2 linked regions of the Homo sapiens genome follow. The protein of the gene in region 1 purifies or fractionates together with the protein of each later gene. This does not show direct contact. Each region holds a gene or a part of one and is shown in the gene's direction. Other genes may lie near its edges.

Region 1 (2,895 bases):
TATCTCATAAGATTTTTGAAAGGATAAAATGAAATAATATGGAGAAATGACTTATAAGCTTTTGTTGTAATTTGTTATATACATAGGGATGGATAGACGGATGGATAGATTAGATGATAGATAGATAGATAGATAGATGATAACGTTATGGACTGAATGTTTGTGTACCCCCAAAAATTGATATTTTGAAGCCTAACTTCCAGTGTGATGGTATTAGGAGGTGAGGCTTTGGGGAGGTGATTAGGTTTAGATGAAGTCATGAAAATGAAACCCCCATGATGGGATTTGCGCCTTTATGAGAAGAAATACCAGTGCTTTCTCTAATTGCCATGTGAAGGTATACCAACAAGGTAACAGTCTGTAAGCCAGGAAAAGAGTCCTCACAAGAAACAGAATTTGTCTTTATCTTGGACTTCCTAACCTTTAGAATTGTAGAAAATAATTGAATGTTGTTTAAGCTACCAGTCTGTGGCATTTTTTGTAGCAATCAGAACTGACTAATAAAGATAGATAGATGATAGATAGATACATAGATAGATGATAGAGATAGATGATAGATAGATAGATAGATAGATAGATAATATACATATATATGTATGGTCAATGACTGAGTTCCTTAGGCAATGGTGCCCTGATTGCCTTTATTAGGCAATTCAAATAGAAGAATAGAAGAACCCCCTTTTTTTTTTGAGATGGAGTCTTGCTCTGTCACCCAGGCTGGAGTGCAGTGGCGTGATCTTGGCTCACTGCACGCTCCACCTCTCGGAAGAACCCCTTTTTATTAGCATAAAAGCACTTACTTTTATGAAGCAAACACATGTAAAAATATGATAACAGAGACTAAAACATTTATGAGATTAGGCCTGAAAGAAAACAATCACAGAGAAATTACTGAATTCCTCTTGGCACCCTGGGGCCTGATTCATTCGCTCTAAATTGTTTAGTACAGTTCCAGAGGATCAAAGCTCCTGTTTCCTGGCCAGATAATCACCTAACTTTTGTAATCAGAACTGCCTTTCAGAAGTAGAGTGGAAATCCAGTTTTCTTCTAATAGCCCTATACCCTTGCAGTATTACCAGGGACAAATTTTTTAAAATTCATACTTCTTGACATTTTTTAAAAGGCTTCAAGCTAAATATTATGATCCTGGTAAGACAAACTTTGAATAAATGTGTGAGAGATACAAAGATAATTTTTGTTTTCATGTTTTGATGCACTTACACAACTGAAACTATTTCTAAATATTCTTTTATTTTTTATTAAGATAAAAAGCAAACATAATATCAATTTAAATAATACTGAAAGTCAACCTTCCTACCACAGTTCCCTCCTCCAGAGATAGTGTTTAGCTACTTTGATGTCACTCCCATAGTTCTGAGTTTGCTTTTTTACTTCAACTATTATGTTATCTTACAGATGTCATTGTTTTTCCTAAAACTTGAAGTGCCTTCCTTTTTTTCTCCTTGAACTCTTTTCCCATAAAAAAAAAATGTTTTTGGTTTCTAGAATTTTCAAATAGTATTGTTTACTTGACTGAATCCCTTCCTTTTCCAGAAACCTTGAGCCTCCTCCACTGGTTTGGGAGTGGTAAGACCAAAGTAAATGTAAAAAGTAAAGTAGAGGTTCCTCTTCAAAGACTTTCCTCCCTATCTAATTAGAAATAAGTAGTAACTTCTTTTAGAAGCAAAATGTATTCACAGACCTGTACTAACATTCTTAAATATCTGCTAGTCATAATAAAGAAATCAATGTACTTTATGTTCTTAGCTCCCACAATTTAGCCTAAGTATTTGCCCTGGCATGCTTATACTGGTCCAAGCATTAGGTCATAGCCTGTTCCTCTTCCTTATTTAGAAGTGTTTTTACCTTTCTCAGCATTCCACAAGTTACTTCCTCATTCCTTTGTTCTCCTCTACCTTTGCCTCTTTTAAAAGTTCTAAATTGCTAGCCAATCGGGACAAATACAGAATGTGAGGTCCTGTTCCAGCCAATGGAAACCGGACACAGCAGTAGGGTGGACGCGTCAGGTTATAAATGACCCTGTCTCCTTTGTTCGGTGTACTCTTGTGGCAAAACTGCTGGCAAGTGTACCCTTTCTGCAGGAAGTAAAAATGGCCTTACTAAATAAATTTATGTTCAAGTGCTATTTCTTTACGACACCGAGGAACAAGCATTTCAAACATAAGGACATGGTCTCAGAAGAAAGAGGCCTAAAGGAGCCACCCAAACTGCTTTTAGTTTAGCCCAGAAATGCTCACTAATCAATAATTTTTAAAAAATGTCTAATTCTGGCTGCATCATCCTAATTTCCTGAATCTATGGTAGAGCCAGGAATCTGGATTCCAGGCAGCACTCTAGGGAGGTATGATGCAGACAGTCCATGTTTCCTATTATTCCAAACACTGCTTCACACCTTACATGAGAGCTCACCAAAGTCCTCATTCATCTCATAAGATAAAAAAATTTGTATAGGATGTGGTTCCAAAGCCCTAATTAGTAATAAGCAGAGTGTTTTCCTTACATCTGTGTCTCATGAACTAGAAAATGGCCTGCGGAAAATTTGAGAATTTCCAACTCATGGATGCATGTCTTTCTTGCTCTAAATATCTTCATGTTAGAGGTCTAGAAACTGCCCCCAACTGTGAGAACACTGTCCAGGGCCCCCTTAACCAGTCACTGCTGTGATCCCAGGGTTATGTGATGCAATGAGGGCTTCCCAAACAGCAATTCATTCTTTACCTGAGGCAGAGCTGGGAATGGCTCTCTCAGAAGTCCCAGGACAGGAATATCATCATCAGATGTGCCTTCCAGATAGGAAAATTGAGGCTCATAAAATCAAATATTTGCTAAGTTTTACAGCCATGATCTAGATCCTGGATTTATCCAATGCATGAA
Region 2 (3,835 bases), on another chromosome or scaffold:
ACAATGAACTGTGAGAGTTGCTACTTGTTCATGAGTATTAAAACTTCAGTATTTCCCCCAAATAGGCTCATGTTCACACCTTCATAACAGAATGGACTTCTAGGCTGAATTCCTTTAAGCACATGTGGTACACTCTGATATAGAATGTTGTTGTTTTGAACTAGATAATTGATTCTAAGGGTTTTTAGTTTAATGCATATTTGTATAAGACTGAAGTGTGTGGTTTTTTTTTTTTTTTTTTAACCAGATTAAGAGTTCTGTTTGGGGCCGGGCGCGGTGGCTCACGCCTGTAATCCCAGCACTTTGGGAGGCCAAGGCGGGCAGATCACGAGGTCAGGAGATCGAGACCATGGTGAAACCCTGTCTCTACTAAAAATACAAAAAATTAGCTGGGCGCGGTGGCGGGCACCTGTAGTCCCAGCTACTCAGGAGGCTGAGGCAGGAGAATGGCATGAACCTGGGAGGCGGAGCTTGCAGTGAGCTGAGATCGCACCACTGCACTCCAGCCTGGGTGACAGAGGGAGACTCTGTCTCAAAAAAAAAAAAAAAAAAGAGTTCTGTTTGGTTTTATGGAAAGAATATTACTTTTTAACAAGAAAATGTCTTTCTTTTCATGAGCCATTTTCTTACTGCATTTAATCATATTATTAAGATAAAGTGCAATTTGTTATGTGGACAAATGTATATCCCTTTACAATTATATTTGTTTCTATTGCATACATTTTTCTGGAAGAAGTCTTATTTTCACATGCAAAATTTGTGAATGGTGCCTCAGAGCCTCAGAAGACAGAAAGTTAACAGCTGGTTCAGTCTAGAATGTGTTTCTTTGATTCTCTTTTTTCTTTATTTTAGGAACTTAGCTTAGTTTTTCCAAAATGATTGAAAGGTCTCCGTTGATTTTCTCTGCTGTTATTTGTGTCTGTATTTGATATAACTTTATATCATACATCTGAAAACTATCACATAAACTCTACTTGGCAAATAGTTCTTCACTTCCATCGATGTGGATTTCTGTGTCTTTCAAACAGCGGTGTAGTTTTATAAAGTATCTATCTTTAATTGGTATTTCTAAGTTAGAAAAAGGGGGAAAAAAGCCAGCTCAATAAATATTAATATAACTGGTGACTAACCAATTACAAAAAGAAAAACTAGCGAAATACTTCATTTTAGAAATGTAAAAGTGAGTAACGACCCAGTTGTCCAACCTGATTAAAAAAACTTGTCAGATGTGAGTGACTGTGTGAAACCTGCTATTTGCTATCACTGAAATAGGAGTGAAAACTGATGAGAATGTAAAATGAATTGCTTTGTACTTTTAAATCGTGTTTCACATTTATCTCATTTTCTCTTCATCATAGACAGCTGTGAGCACAGTCACAACGCAGAATCATTATTCCAACCGTGCTTGGGTTGGGACTAGCCTCAGAAGATCATGTAGTGTATCACCCTGCCTTCTGGCCATATCAAAAGCACTGTCCACAAACAGTTTAATTTAGAATTTATGTAATAAGGGACTTGGATTGATTTGATGGGTTTTTTTGTTCCAATCAGACCTATTTAGACTAATGGGCCATACTGAAAATGACCAATATTTCTAGTTTGAAATTTTAATTCTAATTTAATGAAAGTTTACAGCTTTCCCTAATGACCCAAGTATACTTTGTAATTAGCTGTAGGCCTGCAAGTGATCCTAATTCTATGCTCCATATGACCTGTGATGTATGTGTGCTTATATATAATATAGTATGTTTTCCTAAATTCAGCATGAACACATCAGCCCACTACTATAAAATCTTGAAATTTTCTTTAGATCATAACACAGAGTTTGAAAAATTATGACTTCACAGACTCTTTTCCACTAAAGTAATCTATTAACTGGCAGGTTTAGGTTGGAGTGCTATTATTGAGAATTCAGTACATTGTAGCAGTGATATTACACTTGTATGAAAAAAAAGTTAAAGTCATCCATTTGGTAATGATATTCAGAAAACAGAAAGAGTGAGCTAAGAAAGAAATAGAGATTTATACTGACAGGTAATTCATAAATAAATAGTAACCCTTTAGCTGATAACATCATTTATCAACTATATACCATCCCATAAGGAAAAAAATGTTCATTTGTATAACTTTATTCCTTTTTAAAAATTAGTTATTTTGAATTGTTTGTATTAAAAATACTGTATCTAAAATGATTTTAATGTATATATGTTGATAATGTCATTACAAATAGGAATTTATTTTATAAAAGCTAATGGCTTTGGTCTACACAGTTAAAGATGAATGGAAAAAAAGATCATTGGCTGATTTGAACATACACCAAAATACTTTCAAAAAGGTTGGATACAGAAAAATTCTAATTTTGAAAGCCAGGCTTACTACAAAATTGAAAGATGTGATTAACTCTTCATCTTTCTTGAATAATTCTAATTGAAGCAGAAGCAAGTTGGAATCAGTGATTTCTCTGGGGAAGCGGAATAAACACTTGTAATAGCGTAGACATTTCAGGAAACTTTTGGCTTAATGGTATGTGGCAAATTATTTACCCTGAGGGGAGACATTGACTGAGGTCACAGCAGATAGATGAATCCCAGATGTGACACTTTTTCATTATATTTGACACAGGAAGCTGACACATAATTAAAGTATGATTGGGGATTATTTACTCCCTTTGAATTCTGTAGAAATATCCACATCATACTATAGTATTTTACTGGTAAAAGTTTATGACTGTCATTAAACCATACTTAAGTATTTTCTTATATTTTCACTTTCCTAGAAATGTGAAAAGGCCCCATCTCTAGTGATAGCTGTTAGGGCTTGGAATTTTTCAGGGAGAGGTGAGCACTTTCATTCAACAAAGGCAGCCAGGGAGTCAGTCGTCTCTCATTCCATCTGTAGCCACAGACCAAAGCCAAGTGCAGATCATCCTATAAGCCAGTGCAGACATTGCCTTGAATGGTAGTGATGGTGTGTTCAAGGCACAACTCCAAAGTGTCTCTCATGGACATCTGCCCTCTCTTGATTGTCTTTATTCCTATATCATTGTGCCCACCTAGCTTGAGACAGCCATGCTAAACTTCCTGTTTTCTCTTTCTCCCCTCCCTCTTCTCGTCTCAACCTCCAGTCTTACCCCAACTGTAGCAAGGTTCTGCCAAATTTCATCTCCTTCCAAGCAGAGTGGGTGTTTTAAGTTAAGCATACCATGTGCTCCATGCTTCTGAAGATTAAATCTGCATTTTTTAGCATGACTTTCAAAGCCCTGTTCCTCACCGATCCACCAAGCCAGCCTTGCCTCCTACAACTTTGCCATCTTGCTCAGTGCCCCGACTACACTGAATTTCTTCAGTTTCCTCAAATGGGTCCAGATTCTTACTCACCTCCAGATTTTACCTCTGGCTATCCTCTTGCTCTGCTGCCTAATTCTTCCCTCCCTGGCACATGGAAGATACTGACCTGTATTCATTGAATAAAAGCAACAAGTAATTGACTAATTGAGCAACTGATTAAATCAGTTAACCTCCTGTACTATTTTCCAGTATTACCTTCCATGTAATAATAATGTCACTTGTCTTGATTGTATTAGTGTTGAGATCAATTGGTAGAAGGGGTGTGTGTGTGGGTGTGTGTGTGTGTGTGTGTGTAATTAGAAATATATAGAGAAAATGATATTCGTTATCTGGGATTAGGTAAAGGAAGGCTTCTACTTTAGATTCAAAACTTTATTAACCAATAAATTACTACTATTTTCTATAGCTTTTCTTTAAGAGTATGTGCATCTGTCACAGGCCAGAGCATTGCAAACACAATAGGTAAGCATGTTTTCATTTTTACATTC

What was found.
Region 2: the proteins of NPAP1 (region 1) and ITGA8 purify together in Homo sapiens (affinity purification with mass spectrometry; one large-scale study listed by BioGRID and IntAct). This does not show direct contact.

The regions. Positions count from the first base shown.
Region 1 is NC_000015.10:24,681,265-24,684,159, forward strand, and holds the end of NPAP1 (nuclear pore-associated protein 1), read left to right. Parts: 3' UTR 1-2,129; downstream 2,130-2,895. UniProt on the Homo sapiens protein: May be involved in spermatogenesis.
Region 2 is NC_000010.11:15,608,209-15,612,043, reverse strand, and holds part of ITGA8 (integrin alpha-8 isoform 1 preproprotein), read left to right. Parts: intron 1-3,753; coding exon 3,754-3,809; intron 3,810-3,835. UniProt on the Homo sapiens protein: Integrin alpha-8/beta-1 functions in the genesis of kidney and probably of other organs by regulating the recruitment of mesenchymal cells into epithelial structures.